Homo sapiens: one gene and its partners. The protein of the gene in region 3 purifies or fractionates together with the protein of the main gene of each other region. This does not show direct contact. Each region holds a gene or a part of one and is shown on either strand. Other genes may lie near its edges. The genes, in order: MARK3, POC5 and CERT1.

Evidence for each region.
Region 1: the proteins of CERT1 (region 3) and MARK3 purify together in Homo sapiens (affinity purification with mass spectrometry; 2 studies listed by BioGRID and IntAct, with this or other methods). This does not show direct contact.
Region 2: the proteins of CERT1 (region 3) and POC5 purify together in Homo sapiens (co-immunoprecipitation; one large-scale study listed by IntAct). This does not show direct contact.

The regions. Positions count from the first base shown.
Region 1 is NC_000014.9:103,489,848-103,493,507, reverse strand, and holds part of MARK3 (MAP/microtubule affinity-regulating kinase 3), read right to left. Parts: intron 1,732-3,660; coding exon 1,474-1,731; intron 1-1,473. UniProt on the Homo sapiens protein: Serine/threonine-protein kinase. Involved in the specific phosphorylation of microtubule-associated proteins for MAP2 and MAP4. Phosphorylates the microtubule-associated protein MAPT/TAU. Phosphorylates CDC25C on 'Ser-216'.
Region 2 is NC_000005.10:75,676,524-75,679,590, forward strand, and holds part of POC5 (centrosomal protein POC5), read right to left. Parts: intron 1,428-3,067; coding exon 1,251-1,427; intron 1-1,250. UniProt on the Homo sapiens protein: Essential for the assembly of the distal half of centrioles, required for centriole elongation. Acts as a negative regulator of centriole elongation.
Region 3 is NC_000005.10:75,501,610-75,505,269, reverse strand, and holds part of CERT1 (ceramide transfer protein), read left to right. Parts: intron 1-3,660. UniProt on the Homo sapiens protein: Shelters ceramides and diacylglycerol lipids inside its START domain and mediates the intracellular trafficking of ceramides and diacylglycerol lipids in a non-vesicular manner.

The DNA of each region.
Region 1 (3,660 bases), on a different chromosome or scaffold from region 3:
GTCCCAAACCTGGCAAAGCTCTTTGGCTGATTCTGTTTTGCCCAGTTTAAAATGAGGTGGCTTAATAAAGGGGCTAAGAAGTGAGTAAGAGGGTAAATAGAAACCTTCTGATGCGTCTGACTTCTAGTTAATGCTAATGGATGTCAGAGATCCTCCCTAATCTAGGCGGAGGTTGAAGTTAGCCAAGATTGCACCACTGCACTCCAGCCTTGGCGACAGTGAGACTCCGTCTCAAAAAAAAAAAAAAAATTAAAAAAAAAAAAAAAAGGAATACTCCCTAATCTATTCCATGTCCTAATAATAAGTAGATCAGACTTTAATGTGACTCACCGAAGTTTCAGATGATCGAATACAAGATTACATTTAGCTTAGTTTAAATAATGGAGATGGAGTGAAATGAAGTAATAGGCTATAGGCCATAGGGAATGCAGAAAAACAGAGGAGGGTACTGATCATTTCAGACTCGGGAAAGACTCCTACTGCTGTCCTGTAAGCTACAGATGACAAATAAGAGGGTCCGTCCTAGGCAAACCTGCAAGATACCACAGACAGACTCATCCACAGCTAGGCTTAATTTCAAAACATTTCTCCAAGGATGTCCTGAAACTGCAGGGGCTCTTGGGTTTCCTGGGCTCCTTCTCGGAAAGGTGCCTTTCACTATTGTTTACGGTTCAAAGTGGTATCCTTTCTTTTTCCTCTTGAAGCAGCCAGTATTTCTGGGCTTTTGTAACAGGTAACAAGGTTACGGAAATGAAGTTAATCTCAAAGGACCCTTGAGAGTTTACTGAGGCCCCAGATGCTAGCCTACTAGACACATGGAACATTTTAAAAAATTTCCAGGACCATCAGCCAAGAATCATGCAGCATTTAATAAAAATAACTTAATAATAGTAACATTATTTTTTGATAATAAACCAGAGATTTTATCTCCAAAACTATACCATTTAAGGACATTACCTTGCTCTCAATATAAATTACTAAGACTGAGAGAGAAACTTTCAAGATTTGGACTCTTAAGAAATTTACTGCTCCTTAACAACAATAAAGTGAGAAAAGAGAAGCTGTCTCTTTCCTCTGGGGCTGGAGATGATTATGAAAGACATGCATGGTCTTTCCTGCTGATTGTTACAGAGTGCCAGCCCCCCACCCCACACCAGAACTCGAGGTCTGCCTGCTCAACAACAACGAACATGCCATGCAGACAGATACGTGAGCAAAAGGAACAATAATTAAAGAACAGTAACAAAAACCTCCTAAATGCTAGTTAACTTTTAGTGTTATGAAGACTCTGAGCTCTACAATTTCTACTTTAAAGGTTTTAAAGTATAAAGTTAGATATATATAAAACCAGAAAACCATGAGCTGAAGGCAGACTGAAAAGCATCCAGGTAGCAGTGGCTTCACACAACAAAAAAGACATCTTTCCTTTTGCTCTATGTGTTCACTCCAAAACAACCAGCACCTAGCACTTACCTCCTTGTGAGTTTTGAAGTTAATTTACTAAAGAGATTAGTGGAGCCTCGGCTTCGAGTCTGGGACAATGGTGTGGCTTCATGGGACAGGCTGGGAGAGGCAGGAGGGCCATTATATGTTGCGGTTCGCCGTTCCCGGGGCTGGCCGTGGAAAGTGCTACGACTGGCAGTGCCTCTTGGGAAGCGGATTCGATCTGGGGTGGCTGCACTACTGATACTGTGTGTTGAAGCAACTGGAGTTCTCTGATCAGGAATAGTGCTATGAGATCAGAAAGTAAGAAGCTCTCAGAACATGATATACAAAAATTTACAGTCACAATATACCTTTTATACACAGTGGAGAAAATCGGGTATAAAAAATCCAGATCCAAGGGGTATTTTATAGGACTTAGGAGCAAAAGGTAAGTTAAGTGGGAAAGGGTACCAAAAGAACAATACATAATGAGACAAAGCCTCATGGAGTTTAAGGGACCAGTATTATATATATTTTCAAGGACAAGATTAATGCAGGGAAATTCTAGGACAGAGAACAGCTAACTCAAACTTTTCCCCTTTGCTTCCCTCTCAAATTGCTTACATAGAGAACTGTGCCAATACGAAAGAAATAAAGGATATGCTGGCGTAACTGAAGAACAGGCAACTAAAAAGTTTTGGAAGTAAACAAATGATATATGTATAAAATTCCACATGCTGAAAGCAACTTGGGAGGAGCAGGAACTTCTTATACATTTTGTAGTACGCGAAGGCACGAAGACACACAATACACAACCGAGGACATCATGACAAAAGATGTGCTTAACTAAAATCACATGGAGGAAGGACGCCTTGTGGACAACTGTAACAAAATCTCAGACTATAAAATCCACAGCACAAAATTAAGAAGCAGTGGGTACACATTAGTTTCACAAAGAATGTGCATTTTTCTTACATAGCCTTGAAGTTATCTCCTTCACTGTCTATTGGAGGTAACATCATCTTGGGGTGCCCAGAGGCTGACATGGACATCGACTTCTGATGTCTCAGCCGACAGGTAGATGTACAAACTGAGGCAGGGCTAGCTGCGTAAGCGAACATTTCTGTCAGGCTGGGAGGGGTTTGGGTTCAGGCAGAGGCAGAAACACAGTATGAAGGAGCAGTGACCACAGAGCAACCTGTGTGTAATGCACACACCTTCCTCCCAAGCCATCTCATTTCTGGTAAAGAATAAAAATCTCCTAAGCTTGTTTTGGAGATTCTGGAGCAACTGCTAACCTATAGTTGCTTTTTTTTTTTTCCAAACAGTAATCATAAAAATCTATTACCTTAAAATAAAATAGCAGATTACATGTTTGAATATCTGTTTCTATGAGAGGGACAATGTCCTCTGAGGGTATGCACAAAATAAAACCTATTCTAAGAGATGCCTCAATTCAAATCTAAGTGGTAAAATGAATATATAATATGAGCATGCTATGCTCTCAACCTGTTCCCAAAACACACTGACATATTTTATTTTTTCTTTATTTATTTTTTTTGTAGAGACAGGGTCTCGCTATATTATCCAGGCTGGTCTTAAATTTGTGGCTTCAAGTGATCCTCCCGCCTTGGCCTTCCAAAGTGTTGGGATTATAAGTGTGAGCCACCACACCCGGCCCGCACTGATGTATTTTAAATGAATTAATAAGATTACAGGTATAGGAACTAGCTGTTATATAACAGTATCCTATGTTGTTTGGTGTTTTTTTGAGACAGGGTTTTGCTGTCACCTAGCTGCAGTGCAGTGGTACGATCATGGCTCAATGCAGCCTCAACTTCCTGGGCTCAGGTGGTTCTCCCACCTCAGCCTCCTAAGTGGCTGGGAATACAGGCGCACTCCACCATGCCTGGCTAATTTTGTATTTTTAGTAGAGAGAGTTTTGTCATGTTGCCCAGGCTGGTCTTGAACTCCTGGGCTCAAACGATACGCCTGCCTTGGCCTCCCAAAGTGTTGGGATTACAGGCATGAGCCACCATGCCCAGCCTTCCAATGTTGTTTTAACAATATAGTCTAGAACCTTCCTAATCAAAGGACATTTACTCCAAGATAAAAAACAGTCAGCAGAGCCCCCTTCTCCAAGATGGGCAAATTCATCAGAGCAAATTAACTGTTAACAGACATGGTAAGATAGAGTGGCTGGAAGTCTGCAGTTTCATCTAACACACACAGTTA
Region 2 (3,067 bases), 170 kb from region 3:
TCATCTAGTGCCCAGCTAGTACTCGGGAAAAAAGGATTTAAAATCATTCCATATACTTTTTTTTTGCTAATACTTAGAAAGTACACAGGAACGTTGTCCGATGCTGAGAATTTATAGAGGGCATTCTCTTTTAAAATCAGTCCCTGAAATCAGCTGGGGGTGGTGGCGGGTGCCTGTAATCCCAGCTACTCGGGAGGCTGAGGCAGGAGAATTGTTTGAACCCAGGGGGCGGAGATTGCAGTGCGCCAACATTGCGCCATTGCACTCTATCTAGCCTGGGAGACAAGAGAGAAACTCTGTCTCAAAAAAAAAAATAAATAAAAAATAAATAAATAAATAAATAAATAAATCCTTGTTTTTCTTTAGGGATGTTCTTATCACTCTTATTATACTTTTTGAGATAATTGTTGATTCGTACACATTTGTAGGAAATAATTCAGAGATATCTCATGTATCTTTTTCTAGTAACTTTCAGTAAGTTAAATTTGCTTATGGTTTTATAGTTTATAAAATGCCTTAATACATCTCGTTTAATTTTCACATTATCTCATTTAATCTTGAATCCTAACAATAACCCAAGGAGCTAACTATTTTTATTAACCCCATTTTACAGAAGAGAAAGTGGAGGCTCAAATATTTTACTTGATTTGTATATATCACAAAGCCAACAAGTAGCAAAGCTGAAGCACTAACTCGGGTTTTAAAATTTTTGCTTCAAATTCAATGCACCTTCTTTATATCACATGCATTTACTGCAAGTTGAATTTTGTTAAACTAAAAACATGCTGACAATTGTACTGAAAAAAGGGGAAGACTTTTTTTAAAAAAGGACCAAAAATTAAAAACTATAAATGTAGGGGAGTTTTCTTGTAATCAAATATCTGCTACATGAGCAGCTAGTGAGTGAACAATTTTTGTCTCTTTTTAAACTGATAATAAAGCATTTACATATTTTACTCTTTTGACCACAAACACACTGGATTACTTTTAGTATTTTATAATTTTTACAGTTTGGAAGAAACGATGTTTCTGAAATTAATTTCCCAACAGCAGAAACGTAGATTTATAGCAGGTTTGAGAAAAACAAGTATATATATTAAAAAAAAAAAAAAAACTGTAACAGGAAAAGGCAGAACAAGTACCAGTCATCATAAATTTTTATCTTCTCAACATGTTATGTAAGTGTTTACTAGTCTATGAACTCTCAGGAAAAAGACTTTTTGACAAAAGGTCATCAAATGTGGACTCACCACTGTGACTGGATGATGTTTTTCCACAACAACTGAGCTCATGGGAGGAGAAACTCCCATTATAGCTAAACTGCTGCTAATTCTATTTTTTGAAGCAAAATCACATCTTCCTGTGATCCGGGCTGTAATAGTTCTTCCTGCTTTCTGTTGTGCAGAGGTTACAACTCTTGGCACATACTAAGAAGAAAAAAAAATAAAAGAAGTAACAAGGTGGCAGAAAATCCACAGCAAAATCTATTGATTCCATAAATTATGAAGAATACACAGGCACTTAAAATAACTGTATGTTCAACCAACTTTAACATGGAAAAAACAAAATCACAAGACGAAAAGCAAAACAAAACTGAACACCCCAAAATATCCCTTTAACCTGAGTATGCCAACGATTTTATAAGATTTTAGAAACTTAAAAAACCAACTTTTTTTTTTTAAATGATAGATTTATAGAAAGACACAGAGATCATATTGAAAAGTACTGTGTGCTCTTCACCCAGTTTCCTGCCATGGTTACATCTGACATAATTAGAATATAACAAAGTCAAAACCAGGAAGCTCACCATGAGATAATGCCTGTGTATAGATCTCTGTCATTTTATCACCTAAGTTCCTGTTAACTATCACTCAATCAAGATACAGAATACTCATCACCACGAAGATCTCCCTCGTGCCACCCTTGACAGTCATATCCATCTCTCTGTTCCTTCCCCAACCATCCTTAACCTCTGGAAACCATTAATCTGTTTTATGGACTCTTTGATCCTTAAGCATAATTAATATTATCATTACACATATGCTTCTGTGTTCTGCCTTTTTTCCTTCTCATTTTATTAATATACTTTTTTTTACGAGGTAATACAGAGACCTGCTATAGTTCTTAATGAGATGGTTTTTATACCAACATACTACTTTGTCTTTCTTTTTCTATTACATTTAGCACATTTTGCAAAAGAAAAATCCTCTTTTGAGAGTTACTTCTGTATAATAAAAATATATTGCAAACAATGGAACGATCATATCAAAAAGTATTATCAGCTTTTATAGCTTTTGCTGCTTATCGCTGGATAATACTCCAGAAAAATATTTACAGCAGGAATAACACGTAAGTGGACTATTTTTCCACTGTCAATCAATTACACAGCCGCCTGTTTAAGTCTGAGGTGAAATCTACTATTCAAGTTGTGGTTCTTTATTAATGTTTCATATTTGTATTCCATTTTGTCAACTATTCATCTTATTTGCTAAGAATTGAAAGGATATTAATATTTAAATTTAATAGTTCCTGACGAGTACTAAACTCATTTAATAATTATAGATACTTATCTCAGAGTGTAAACGATTTCCCCATTTCATGTATTTGTCTTAATTTTCAATGCACATCCATTTTTTTAAGTTGTGGTTAATCCTGTCATTAATTTCCTCTTGCTTCCATGATGAAACCAAAACCAGCTTTGGACAGCTGAGGTAGTTATATTCTTATAACATTTACTTATTTTGGCTTAGCTTATTAAAACATTTGAAATTCCAGTGTGAAGTATTAATCTAAATTCATTTTTTCTCTAAACAGTTTTTCCAAAGGCATTTATTAAGTATCAATCTTTTCCCGATTATTATAGTTCATCTGTGATTCTCCATATAGCTGCATCTAGCTACACACAGTCACAGCTGTATACTGAAATGGGAAGAGAGTGGGCTTCAGGAGAGATGTCTCTGGGAAAATTAAAATGACAGAGTATTGATGTTTTTGGAAGACCCTATGGAAAACAGCATTCAGTGGGGTTTTGTAATCCTTGGAGAGTTTGGAAATAATTCACTATAGT
Region 3 (3,660 bases):
TGTCACCCAGGCTGGAGTGCAGTTCTGTGGTCTCAGCTCACTGCAACCTCGACCTCCCAGGTTCAAGCAATTCTTCTGCTTCAGCCTCCCAAGTAGCTGGGACTATAGCCACGTGCCATCACGCCCGGCTAATTTTTGTATTTTTAGTAGAAATGGGGTTTCACTGTGTTGGCCAGGCTGGTCTCAAACTCCTGACCTCAAGTGATCCACCCACCTCAGCCTCCCAAAGTGCTGGGATTACAGGCATGAGCCACCGCGCCTGGCCTACTTAGTTTACATTTAACTTAGTATATAGAAACAACTGTTCCTTTTTGCACTCGTAGTCATTAGACATGAATAATGTTTAAGATATGTAAGAACTATAACAAGTAAACTGGCATAAACAGGTTTGGGAACAACCAACTGACTTGTTAAGCATGTAACCCAACTAGTGAGAACAGAAGTACCTGATAATACAAAAAATAGCATACTGGTTAAGAATGGTCAGCATGCCATGGGCCAAAAAAAAAAAAAAAAAAGTGTTGGCTAAGGCCAGACAGTTAAATAGAGGTCAGTTAAGGGAGCTGTTGTAGTTAAAATCTGAAAATGGGTACGTTAAAACAAAAATACAGAGTTTACTAACTCACTCAAAGAGAAGTCACATTTTGTGATAGAATTTATTTGGCTTATAAAAGTGAAAGATATATATATAATACTTCAGATTTCCGTTAATATCTAATCCTTACTTAGCGTATGTTTGTTATGCATTTAGGGAAAATCTTACAGTATTTTTACATTATTTTTTATACATTATTTCCCCCCTTGTATATTCAAAGTTTGAAAACAAAAGTTTAGAATTGAATATCAAGTTAGAGAAACACAGAAGAAATATTTGGAAGTGTTGATAATGAAACTACGCTCTCTATTCTTAGAGACAATTTTTAGGAAATAGCTTTAACATAAAGGCTCAGTATTTATTTTGACTGGTATGTGGTACATTGTAATGTGTTTAGAAATTGTATCTAGTTTAATATTTTGGGTGTTTTTCTTCCGAGATAGATCATTATTCATATCAATGGACAGAATAGTGGATTGAAATGTACCTTGCGATCTTGAAGTGTTTTTCCTTGATCCTCCACTCCCCTTCTTTTGCGTATTATTATTGGATGTTTATTAGTTGCAATGCTTAACTCTTTGAAAATAGTATAATGATTGATGTAAAAATGGGGAGGAATTAAATTTTATCTTTATTATTCTCTAAGTAGTAGTATTCCTAGAGTACCATGCTAGTTTCTGTGGATTTAAATATAGTTATTCTGTCTTGAATTATGGACTATAATAATGTTGCCTGGCTTATTTGGAGAAAAGAAAATTTTAAATTAAACATTTAATTTAAATGTTTAATTTAAATTAAACAAAAAATTTAAATGTTTAATTTAAATTAAACAAAAAATTTAAATTTTAACATTTATATCCATCTTCTCAGGAAGAAAACAGTGTTACTTTATTGTAATTGATTTTTGTTATAGCTATATGTACATGCATAACTTTCATTGTGGTACATAGTAAAAGACATGCGTAGGAACAAGAAACAATTTGAATTCTTTGAAGGAGAGATAAAAGTAGAAGTAAAAAGATGAATTAGGCAACAAAATCTGTGTGGTAGTCTTAGATACAATGAAATGGATGATAGGAAAAAACACAAGCATTTATATTATTGAACTTGAACTTTCCTTGCCCTTTGGGTTCACAGACTCCATGTTACATATTTAAAGGAAATTAAAAATATAACTGAATTCAGTGAACTCAGGATGAGTTTACAAATTAGAGTATGTACTTTAGTTAAATAAATAAATGTAATAGTAATATTCCTCATTAAATTTTAATAGGCATCTCTTGGTATTTTTTTTCCTTAAATATGGGCTATGCCTATTGTCACTTCATGTCAGAATACAAAGAATGTAAATGTTTAATTTCTTTATATGGCACTCTTATGAAATTGATAATATTCACGTACAAAGAAATCTGGGCTTGAAGAGTTGATGTGACTTTACTGTAACCATTCATTACTATATTATTTGTTGGTGGACCTAGCATCTGAACCCACATTTCTTGATAGAGCCTAATCCATTTTAAGTTCATTCTTAGTTTAATGATTAAATCACTCTTAATTTATAAAAACAATATTCTTTATCTGTGTGATAATAAAGTGGGTGAAATAATTTCAAGGAAGAAAGTATGTCTTGAGAGAATTTATTCCTTAATGTGAAAGGATTGACAGTAAGTAGGTGAGAGGAAAAATAGTATTCCCTTACTTTGTGTAAAAAGAGCTATTTGTATGTAGAATAAGTGTTTGTAGAAAGACAGTTGAATTCTTCAGTTATTATAGCTTGATACTTAGAAGACCCAGCCCCTGCTACAAAATTTGCCGCATAGTAGATATTCTGAATATGTTAGTTGTAATTGTTTCAATTAAAAGCAAATGTTTATGGAATATTTACACTGTTTACTTTTTATATTCTATTTTTAAAATAAAGTGCACATGATAAAAAATATAATTTGTGGCATTAAAAAGTTTAAGAAGTACATGCTGCTTTTTAGTCTTGCACTTGAGGGACAACCAAACTTAAATTTCTGGTCATCCTTTCAGAAAATATGTAGGACTATACAAGGATTTGTTTATATCTTTCATAAATATTTACACAAATGGTATCATATTAAGCCTATTGTTCTGCACCTTGTTTTAATACAACTTACACATTAACTGTTATATTCTGTTGAATCGTGTGGATATATTATATTTATTTGCCTGGACCCTGTTTTTGCACATTTAAATCATGCCTAATTTTTATTACAATCATTATTGAAACAAATATGTACTTTAAAATTTGTTTTTAGTTATTGTCAAATACTCCTTCAAGAGTACCACTCCTCACTCCTACCAGTAGTGAATGAGTGCCTCTGTTTCTCCTTACCCGCAAGTATTGAGGAAGTTGGGTTTGGCAAATGTTAAAGTATTTGTCAAACTGCTACATTAAAATGGTATCTTATTATTTTAAATTGCACTTTTTATCCATGAGGTTGAGTAACTTAATAATTTATAGCCCATTTTTATTTCTTTTTCCTTTTCCAATTGCTTATGCACTTTTTTTTTGGTTTTTCTTTCCTTTTTGGCTTGTAGAAACTCTTCATATGGTAATTAACCATTTGGCACATTTGTTGCAAATATTTTCCCCCACATTGTCACTTGTCTGTTTCTTCTTTGCTTGTTTTATAGTCTATATTAGGCCCTAGAGAAATCTTAGATTTTTACATACTCTTATTGACATCTTTTATTACGGCTTCTGTATTTACTTGTTTAGATAGGTGTTTCTCTCTCAAAGACTATCTCTCTATATGAATGTAGATATATTTTCATCTAAAATTTACACTTGAATTTTGATTCCTGTGGAAGTTATTTTAGTTTAAGGAGTGATATTGATGTTTTTAGTTTTTTTTCCACATGACTAATTATGTATCCTGGTAGCATTAATTAAATAACTAACCTTTTTCCAAGTGGTTTCAAACACCACTTTCATCATATATTACGGTCCCATATTTATTTAAGGTTGTTTCTGGACTCTCTTCTGGGCATTTGGCTTGTCCTTCTTATCCTCTGTTTAAAATTATATTGTGGGTATT